2 separate regions of the Homo sapiens genome follow, and region 2 is linked to region 1. Evidence: fine-mapped expression QTL. A gene starts in region 1. The other region holds a variant in brackets. All regions are shown on one strand. Distances are from middle to middle. Region 1 holds the start of CFAP91 (cilia and flagella associated protein 91). Region 2 overlaps CFAP91 (cilia and flagella associated protein 91).

Region 1 (4,397 bases):
AAACTGGATTTTACAAGAAAGTACACAGACAGACCTAGGACATGGCTGGTTTTCAAAAACCCCAAGAAGTTTAGGAGTAGAGACAATAAGTTAAAACCAGGAGTATATGCAGAAAGAGTAGTAGGCCAGGAAGCGTATTCAGGAAGTGTCTGTGGATCACATTGAGGGACTAAGTGGCTAAGTTGGCTGGACTTCCTGGTTCAATAGGGACTTCCCTAAGGGGACTTTCCCCTAAGCCAAAATGAGTCATAGCTGCAAGCTAAGGGATTGAAACTTCAACCAATCAAAGGGGACTTTCCCCTAAGCCAAAGTGAGTCCCAGCTGCAAATTAAGGGATTGAAACTTCAGCCAATCATATAGAGAGTTTAAGCTCTAGCTGCAGCCTGATGTTTTTAACCAATCAGGCCCACCAACCTAAGAGAGGAGACCACCCCTCATATTGTGTTATGCCCAATTTCTGCCTCCAAAGAAAGAAGAATTTAAAACAAAAAGGCAGAAATGAAATCCACAGGCAGACAGCCCAGCACTGTGCTCTGGGCCTGGTAGTTACAGATTGACCCCTGACCTAACCGATATGTTATCTATAGATTCCAGACATTGTATGGAAAAGCATTGTGAAAATCCCTGTCCTATTCTGTTCTGTTCCGATTACCAGTGCATGCAGCTCCCAGTCACATACCCACTACTTGCTCAATCGATCACGACCCACTCACGCAGACCCTCTTAGAGTTGTATGCCCTTAAAAGGGACAGGAATTGCTCACTCCGGGAGCTCGGTTTTCGAAGATGTGAGTCCGCCAATGCTCCCAGCTGAATAAAGCCCTTTCCTTCCATAACTCGGTGTCTGAGCGGTTCTTGTCTGTGGCTCGTCCGGCTACAAACCCACAAGTGGATAGAAAATAACCTAATCCTATGGGACAGAAAAAGGAAAAGGGGAGGAGTCATAAGGGGATATAAACATAAGATACCCAAACCAGAAATGGCAACCCTTCCAGGTTCCCTTCCACCACGTGGAAGCTTTACTTTCGCTTTCCCTTTACTTTTGCTTTGGCTTTAATAAATCTTGCCACCGCACAGTCTTTGGGTCCACGCATTTCTCTAGTGAAGCTGTAACACTTGCCACTGTGGTCCACGGCTTCATTCCTTGAAGCCTGTGAGACCATGAACCCTTCGATCGAGAAAAACCTTTGATCGGAAGAAGACTTCTCGTCTCAACATTAAAGGACAAAGAAGCCAACTCTAAGGCATGCCATTAGCTTTAATAATCTGAGTGTAATAAATAATAATGATCATAACGGATTAAAACATCAGATCTGTAAAAAATGCATGCATTCATAATGATATCAAACAAACAAAAACTTTGTGGTTAACTCTGGAGTTTGGTAGGGCACCAACTCATGTCTCTGAAATTTCATAATTAAAAAGAACAAATCCAGCATTTACCCAGTCTTTCCTCTATGAGATTATCCTGGTTATCTCAGGATAACCAATGAGTTGGTATGAAAAGATTCCTTTTATAGAAGAACCTCTGGTAATAATAGAGAATTATTGAAAGGATTAGAAATTCACTGCTCTAGGATAAAAGACTTAAGAGACATACCAAAATGCAACATGAGGACTTTTTTTGGATCTTGACTGGAACAAACCAACTATAAAAGATAATTTGGACTCAAACAGGAAAATTGGAATTATTTATAGTACTAAGGAATTATTGTTAATTTTGTTAGATATGATAACGGTAGTTAAATTTTTAAAATCTATGTCAGTTTGAGATGCAGACTAATTTAAGGGTAAAATAATATTATGTCTAGGATTTCTTTAAAAAAGAGGGGAAGGAAACTGAAACTTGATTGGCAAAATGTTGCTAAATGTTGATTCTGAGGGATGGGTTACTTGAGGGTTTGTTATTAAAAGTAGAATCACTTTTGCTTATGTTTAAAATTTTCCATTATAAATAGTTTTCAAAAGCAGAGCCAGTGCCTACCCCACATCATCTTCTGTTATTTAATGCCCAGGACTCAGAAAGGGTCAGCAGTCTCAGATCAACAGTTACTGATGTCCTAACCCATCCTAAACACTGATGCTAATGAGTGTGGGGCAAAGTTCACAGCGTGCTAAGGAGCAACATTTAGGAACCTGACTGGATTCCGCAGCTCTCGGGACAAGCCCCCTGGAAAAGGGCTGGGGGGAGGGGCGGGGAGGCACCCAATTATTCTAGAAGGTTCTGAGATCTCCCAGGGATTTCCGAGAGGCTACGAGGTGTAACTGGCAAATCAATGACTTAAGAGTAGCTTTCTCCCAGCCTCCCCGCTGGCTCTGGAGTATAGAGGGAAGCCAGCCTTTTCCTCCCCCATCCTGCCCCTCCCCTCTCTTCTCATCTTCCCCTCCACTCTCCTCCTGACCCTGGCCTGGCCACTCCTGCTTTCACTTCTCTCCACTCCTCTTCGGCCCCGCCCCGCGGCCTCCTCCCTCCTCCTTGCCCCGCCCCCTATCCCTGCGCGCCGGCGGCCGTTACCATAGCGACGTGCACGCAGTAGCCAGGCCTGACCCGCTGGTCCCTTGCTGGCGGGAGGAAAGAGGCGGCACCATGAGCCACGCAGTAACCATCGAGGAGCCCCAGGCCCAGCCGCAGGTGTCTCAAACTCGGTACCGGGAGAGGTCGCGGGCTGGGAGCCACATCTCCTCCAATCGAGCGTATGATTTTCTGTACGGTAAGGACCGCCGCAGACCTTCCTCCGCGTCCGTCGCCTCCTAGGCCAGGTGGGCTCCCAGATGGTGGGACCTGGCCAGGGGCATGGCGAACGAAACACGACCCTCTGGACTGACCTCTTGCCCACGGTTGTCCTTGGTCGGGTGGGGGCAGCTCCGAGCCCTCCAGGTGGCCGCACTCAGGTTGGGGTCGGGGGTTCGGGTACATCGAAAGGCGCGGGTGCGCTCCGCTTCGGGGGGCGATTTTCCTGAAACCTGTTCCGGGCGTTTTGGTACCCAGAAAGTGTGCAACGATTTGTACACTCGGAGATTCACTCAACGTTCCTGCATAAAATGCCCTACAAAAATGATCTTTTCTCTCCAACTCTCTGGGCAAATCCAAGTTGGGCGAAAAGAAGTGCCAGTTTATCCCATGCTTGTTTTTAGGTTTTTTGTTGTTGTTGTTGTTTGTTTTTTTTAACTTCTGCGTCAAAGCATTGCTTATAGACTGGGTCCGCTGGCTCCTCTTGGGCCAATAAAACCCCAGTTTATTTTAACGGCTTGGTTGTCCATTTTATGTTTTCTCTCTCTCCACGCTCCTTGAGTTCCTTAAGTTCCTGTTCTACACATTTTTGTAGCCTTCTGAGCACCTATTCTAGTGCTGATACATATACTAGGCGCTTCAATAAATAAATGTTTATTGAATTTGCCGTGGCAAGAACTGTAACCAGCTATAAGCATGATTTTTTCCAATTTTGCCCTCTGCAATCCCAGGTTTTTCACCTGAACCTTGCATTGCTTTCAGCAATGTGGTGTTGCCTCTGGGAATCCCAGTCTCCTTTGTGTGGGAATCTAGGGTACACATTCCTAGATAGAGGCTGTGTAATGATTGCTGACATATTCTGGCCAGTGTTTTTCTGTATTTACTCTTGGTTTTGTGAAATAAATCAAGTTAGCTCCTGTAAACACATCACCATGTTTTTTTTTCACGGGTAATTTGAGAAGGAGGACAAACATCTCCCCAAAGTATTTATTAAGCTGGTTGTTTCTTTGATGCCGAAGTGTCTCTTTTGCAGAGGAATTGCTAAATGTTTCCATGTCCCTTGCTAAGAACAGAAATTCACTCAGAGTAGATCAAATAAAAGTTTGGATTGTTATAAAACAATCTCGCCGCTAGTCATGGACAGGAAGCGAAGTATAGCCAGGGCGGATGAGAACCTGGATGGGGAAAATCAGAACTAAGATGCTGTGCTCTCCTGCTTTCTTTCTTTGACCTTATGACCTTTCACCTTGTTAGGGTTGCCACATTTAGCAAATAAAAATACAAGAGGCACCGTTAAGCTTGAATTTCAGATAATGAATAATATTTTAGTATAAATTTTTGTCCTGTGCAATATTTTGGAACACATTTATACTAAAAAATTATTCATTGTGTATCTGAATTTAAATTTAACTGGGCATCCTGTATTTTATCTGGCAACTCTAGCCTTCTTTCTATGTATAATCAAGCCCCAAGTAATGATATTTCGGTCAACAGTGGACTACATGTATAAGGATGGTCCCATAAGATTATAATGAAGTTGAAAAACTCCAATTACTTCGTGACATTGTAGCTGTCATAACATTGTAGCCCAATGCATCACTTTTTCTGTGTTTAGATATACAAATACCATTGTGTTACAACTGTCTACAGTATTCAGTACAATAACA
Region 2 (4,397 bases), 35 kb after region 1:
TTTGTTGATTTTCTGTGTTATATTTTTAATCACATTAATTTATACTCCTATATTTATTCTATATTTCTTTCTACTTTTTTAGGGTTTGTTTCACAGGTCTTACCTTAAATTGCACATGTAGCTCATCAGTTTCAGGCATTCATCTGTTTTATATAAGTATTTTAGGTTAAACATTTCCTTCAAAATACTGACTTTTGGTACATTTCATTAGTTTTGATATGTAGTATTTGTCATTCTTAATTTCTAATATCAAAAAACCCATTATGATTTTTTAATCTGTGAGTATTTAATAGTGTGTTTTAAAATTTCCAAATATGCAGGAATTTTAACTCATTTTCTCATTAACCTCTAACTCAATTGCATTGTGATCAGAGGTCATAGTCTGTGTGATACCTATCCTTTGAAATTTCATGAGGCTTGCTTTGTGGACCAGTATATGATTATACATGTAAAATAATAAAAGTACATCTTCAAATCACACTGTGCCACTTGATGGGTAGAGCAGGCACCTTAGAGCAGATTATTCCCAACTCCTTCTTCCCTTCCCTGTGATATTCCTGTCATTCATTTCACTCGTCCAAGTGCTATATATAATCAGCCAATACTTTTTTACTTTTATTGCTTTAGTTAACAGTTATCTTTTAGATTAAAAATAAGAACAACAATATATTTTATTTATTCCTTCTCTTCTGCTCTTCTTATACTTATATCGATCTAAGTTTTTGATCTATAACATTTTTCTCCTGCCTGAAGAACTTTTTTTTTTTTATAATTTCTTGCAGGGAATGTCTGCTGGCCATGAATTCCTTCAGTTTTTGTTTGCCCCTTTATTTTGGGGAGCGGGGGGAATGTAATTCGCACACAATAAAATCACCCTTTAAAAATATATAATTCAGTAGTTTTTAGCATATTTACAAATCTGTGCAACCATCACCACTATCTAATTCCAGAATATTTTTGTCATCCCCAAAACAAACCCCATGCCTAATAGTGCTCACTTCCAATTCCCCCTTCCCCTCAGCCCCTGGCAACCACTATTCTACTTTCTTTCTATTGTTTTTTTTTTTTTTTTTTTTTGAGTTGGAATCTCACTCTGTTTGTCAGGCTGGAGGGCAGTGGTGCGATCTCCGCTCACTGCAAGCTCTGCCTCCCAGGTTGACGCCATTCTCCTGCCTCAGCCTCCTGAGTAGCTGGGACTACAGGCGCCCACCACCACGCCTGGCTAATTTTTTTTTTTGTATTTTTAGTAGAGACGGGGTTTCACCGTGTTAGCCAGGATGGTCTTGATCTCCTGACCTCGTGATCCACCCTCCTCGGCCTCCCAAAGTGCTGGGATCGCAGGCGTGAGCCACCGCGCCCGGCCTATTCTACTTTCTTTTTATGGATTTGCCTATTCTGGACATTTCATATACATGGAGTCATGCAGTATATGGCCTTTTGCGTCTGGCTTCTTTCACTTAGCATAGTATTTTTAAGGTTCATCCAGGTTTTAACACATCTCAGTACTTCATTCTTTTTTTATGATTGTGTAACATTCCATTGTGTGGATATACCACATTTTATTTATCTACTCATCATTTGATGAATACACCAAGAATATAACCATGTCTAGTCAGTGGTTAACTTTTTTTTTTGTTTTTTGAGATGAAGTTTTGCTCTTGTTGCCCAGGCTGGAGTGCAATGGTGCAATCTCAGCTCACTGCAATTTCTGCCTCCCAGGTTCAG[G/A]TGATTCTCCTGCCTCAGCCTCCCGAGTAGCTGGGATTACAGGCATGCACCACCATGCCCGGCTAATTTTGTATTTTTAGTAGAGATGGGGTTTCTCTATGTTGGTCATCAGGCTGGTCGGTTAATATATTTTTAGGAATATCATAGCACGTCTTGAGAGATACACACATTCTTGTTAGTGTTTCTCAAGCTGACCTAGCATCACCATAGAGAATATTAATATTCTGATTAATATTTATATCTGTGACCTAGATCTGGTAATGAAGGAAAATATAGGGTACAATATACATTATTCAGGTGATGGGTATGCTAAAAGCCTAGATTTCACCATTATGTAATACATTCATGTAAAAAACTGCACTTTTACCTCTTAAATTTATGCAAATTTTTGTTAAAAAAAGAGATTATATTAATTGGCATTATTTCAGGCACTGTTGGATAAGAAGAATAAAGTTCTTGAAGTAAAGAAACCCCCTCGCTTCCTTCAAAGAAACCCAATACCTCAACCTCGGCTTCCAACTCCAACCTTGGAAATGACGTCCAATGTAAGTTGGAAACTTTTTAGTTGAAATGCTAAATTCAATATCATTGTCAGCTTATTCTTAGGATAGTTTAGCTTAAAGCAAATCTAATTTAGCAGTGTTAGTTTCCCAAGCTCTGACTTAAATATTGTCTTTATTCTTATGTATCAAACATCAGACACAGAAAAACAAACGAGATGAAATGAAATCTAAACCCAGTCCTTCTCAAAAATAAAAACACAATTTAAAAAATCTTTCCATGAAAAATCAGCATCAGAAGGTAGTGCTCATGTATATGAAATAGAAAAAGAAGATTGAGTGATGATCAGCTACCATAGCTATCTTCCCACATGGAGAGATGGCTGATGACTGTTGGAGTCGAAGAGGAATGAAATGCCAGAGGTGTCATCAAGACGGACTTGCTTCTGGGGTGGGAATGACTCAAAGAGCCCTGCCCAGGGCCACATCTCACCAGACTCAATTTGAGCAAAGTATCAGAGTTGGTTAGGATTTAGAGGGCTGACTCAGACTAAACAAATCCACAGGAAACTGTTAGAGATGCCATGATGCAAATTTATTACTTTACAGAGAGAACTATAACTGCCTACTGGATCAGGCTGTTCCTCTTGGCTGGTCAGCACATTATCTCTCAGTATGGGACAGTCCTCACAAGAAGCCAGATTGTATTCAGAAGGCTGATGTGTTTCTTGGCTGAGGGCAGGTGTTGGTGGGAGACCATGCTAACACCTGTTACTACCTCTGATGAGTGGCTCCTGCAGAGGGACCAGAAAGCTCCCACCAGCCAGCGGGGATGTGCTGCTGGATAACATTCTCTTTTCTAGACTTTGTGCAGGGCTTTGGTTGACATATTGTCTTTTTTTTTTTTTTTTTTTTTTTTTTTTTTTTTTGAGACAGAATCTCGTTCTGTCACCCAGGCTGAAGTGCAGTGGTGCAACCTTGGCTCACTGCAACCTCTGCCTCCTGGGTTCAAGCGATTCTCCTGCGTCAGCCTTATGAGTAGCTGGAACTACAGGCATGTGTCACCACACCCAGCTAATTTTTATAGTTTTAGTAGAGATGGGGTGTTGCCATGTTGGCCAGGCTTGTCTCAAACTCTTGACCTCAGGTGATCCACCTGCCCTGGCCTCCCAAAGTGCTAGGATTACAGGCATGAGCCACTGTGCCCAGCCTGACAACACATCGTCTTTCATGTGTGTTAATGTCATCGATTAGACTGCTGTTTTCTTTTTACATTCAAAGGAATCTTAATTCGATTTCCAGACCCTGCTTTTTCTGCTTTGGACACAGAGTTTTTAAGATGATTTTTATAGATGGCTAACCTTGTCTCTTATATTCTGATTTTATCAGCATAGCTAAATTCTTGTGAGAAGTACCTTACTCTGACATAGACTAGCTGTATTTGTGTCTACTGATGATCAAACATGAAAAATCCTATTGCAAAATGATGTTATATGCAATACTTGTTGCTTTAAGAAATATTTTGCTGGAAAGGAATATAGGGAAATGAAAGTGGTTTCATTTGTAGGGATAGCATGGCAGGGAGTGAATTTTTTGCTTGTAATATGATTTGTTAATGATGAAAAATAATGAATTCTAATGTAAGTAACATTAAAATACTATATGTTCAATAAGGGCAGGGACCATCTTTTATTTCTCTTTAAATCTTTTTGGCATCTAGCACAGTCTGTTTTGCTTGAAATAAGTCTTCAAAAGAATATTTGATGCTTGGACTACTGCAGTTCTCAAGCTGCTTGGTTCTCCCTTTGTTCTTTTAGGAAGAAGAAGAAATGGAAATGGCTGTGATCTACCTTCAAAAGTTACTCCGGGGCAGAGTCGTTCAGAACATGGTGTGTAGGTCCAACCGCTGGCCCTGCATTTCTCTTTTGAGAATAAATTTTTTAGAATGCATATGTGCTTGGTTCCTTGGAGTGAATCCCTTTTGCACCCTGCTATCCTATTCAGCTAAACTCTTGAGTTGCCTACCCATTTCCTTCTGGTGACCCATTTCCTTCTAATGGCATCATTTGTCCAGGTGGGTGGCACAGTGTCAAGGAGAGAGACAGGGAGGACCTACCTGCTATTTGCCATGGTTGTAACTAAGGCAGTATGAAACTCACTTCTTCCTTGGAA

The links. PIP is the estimated chance that this variant, and not a neighbour inherited with it, causes the effect. A credible set is the group of variants that fine-mapping cannot tell apart.
Region 2: its variant is the best candidate, but not a certain one, in a credible set for the expression of CFAP91 in tibial nerve (GTEx, PIP 0.68).

Annotation. Positions count from the first base shown.
Region 1 is chr3:119,700,513-119,704,909 of GRCh38, forward strand. CFAP91 (cilia and flagella associated protein 91) reads left to right here and starts at 2,510. Exons shown (of 18, transcript NM_033364.4): 1 at 2,510-2,710. The coding sequence starts at 2,587. It overlaps LOC105374064 (a long non-coding RNA gene), which reads right to left and starts at 2,531. Exons shown (of 3, transcript XR_924391.4): 1 at 1,984-2,531; 2 at 680-909. RefSeq lists enhancers at 11-410, 130-1,329, 1,996-2,675, 2,669-2,718, 2,769-2,828 and a silencer at 2,389-2,558.
Region 2 is chr3:119,735,213-119,739,609 of GRCh38, forward strand. It overlaps CFAP91 (cilia and flagella associated protein 91), which reads left to right. Exons shown (of 18, transcript NM_033364.4): 11 at 2,154-2,270; 12 at 4,043-4,114. Among named protein-coding and RNA genes, the nearest start is that of CFAP91, 34 kb to the left of the region's middle. The variant G/A (reference allele first, on the strand shown) is at 1,726.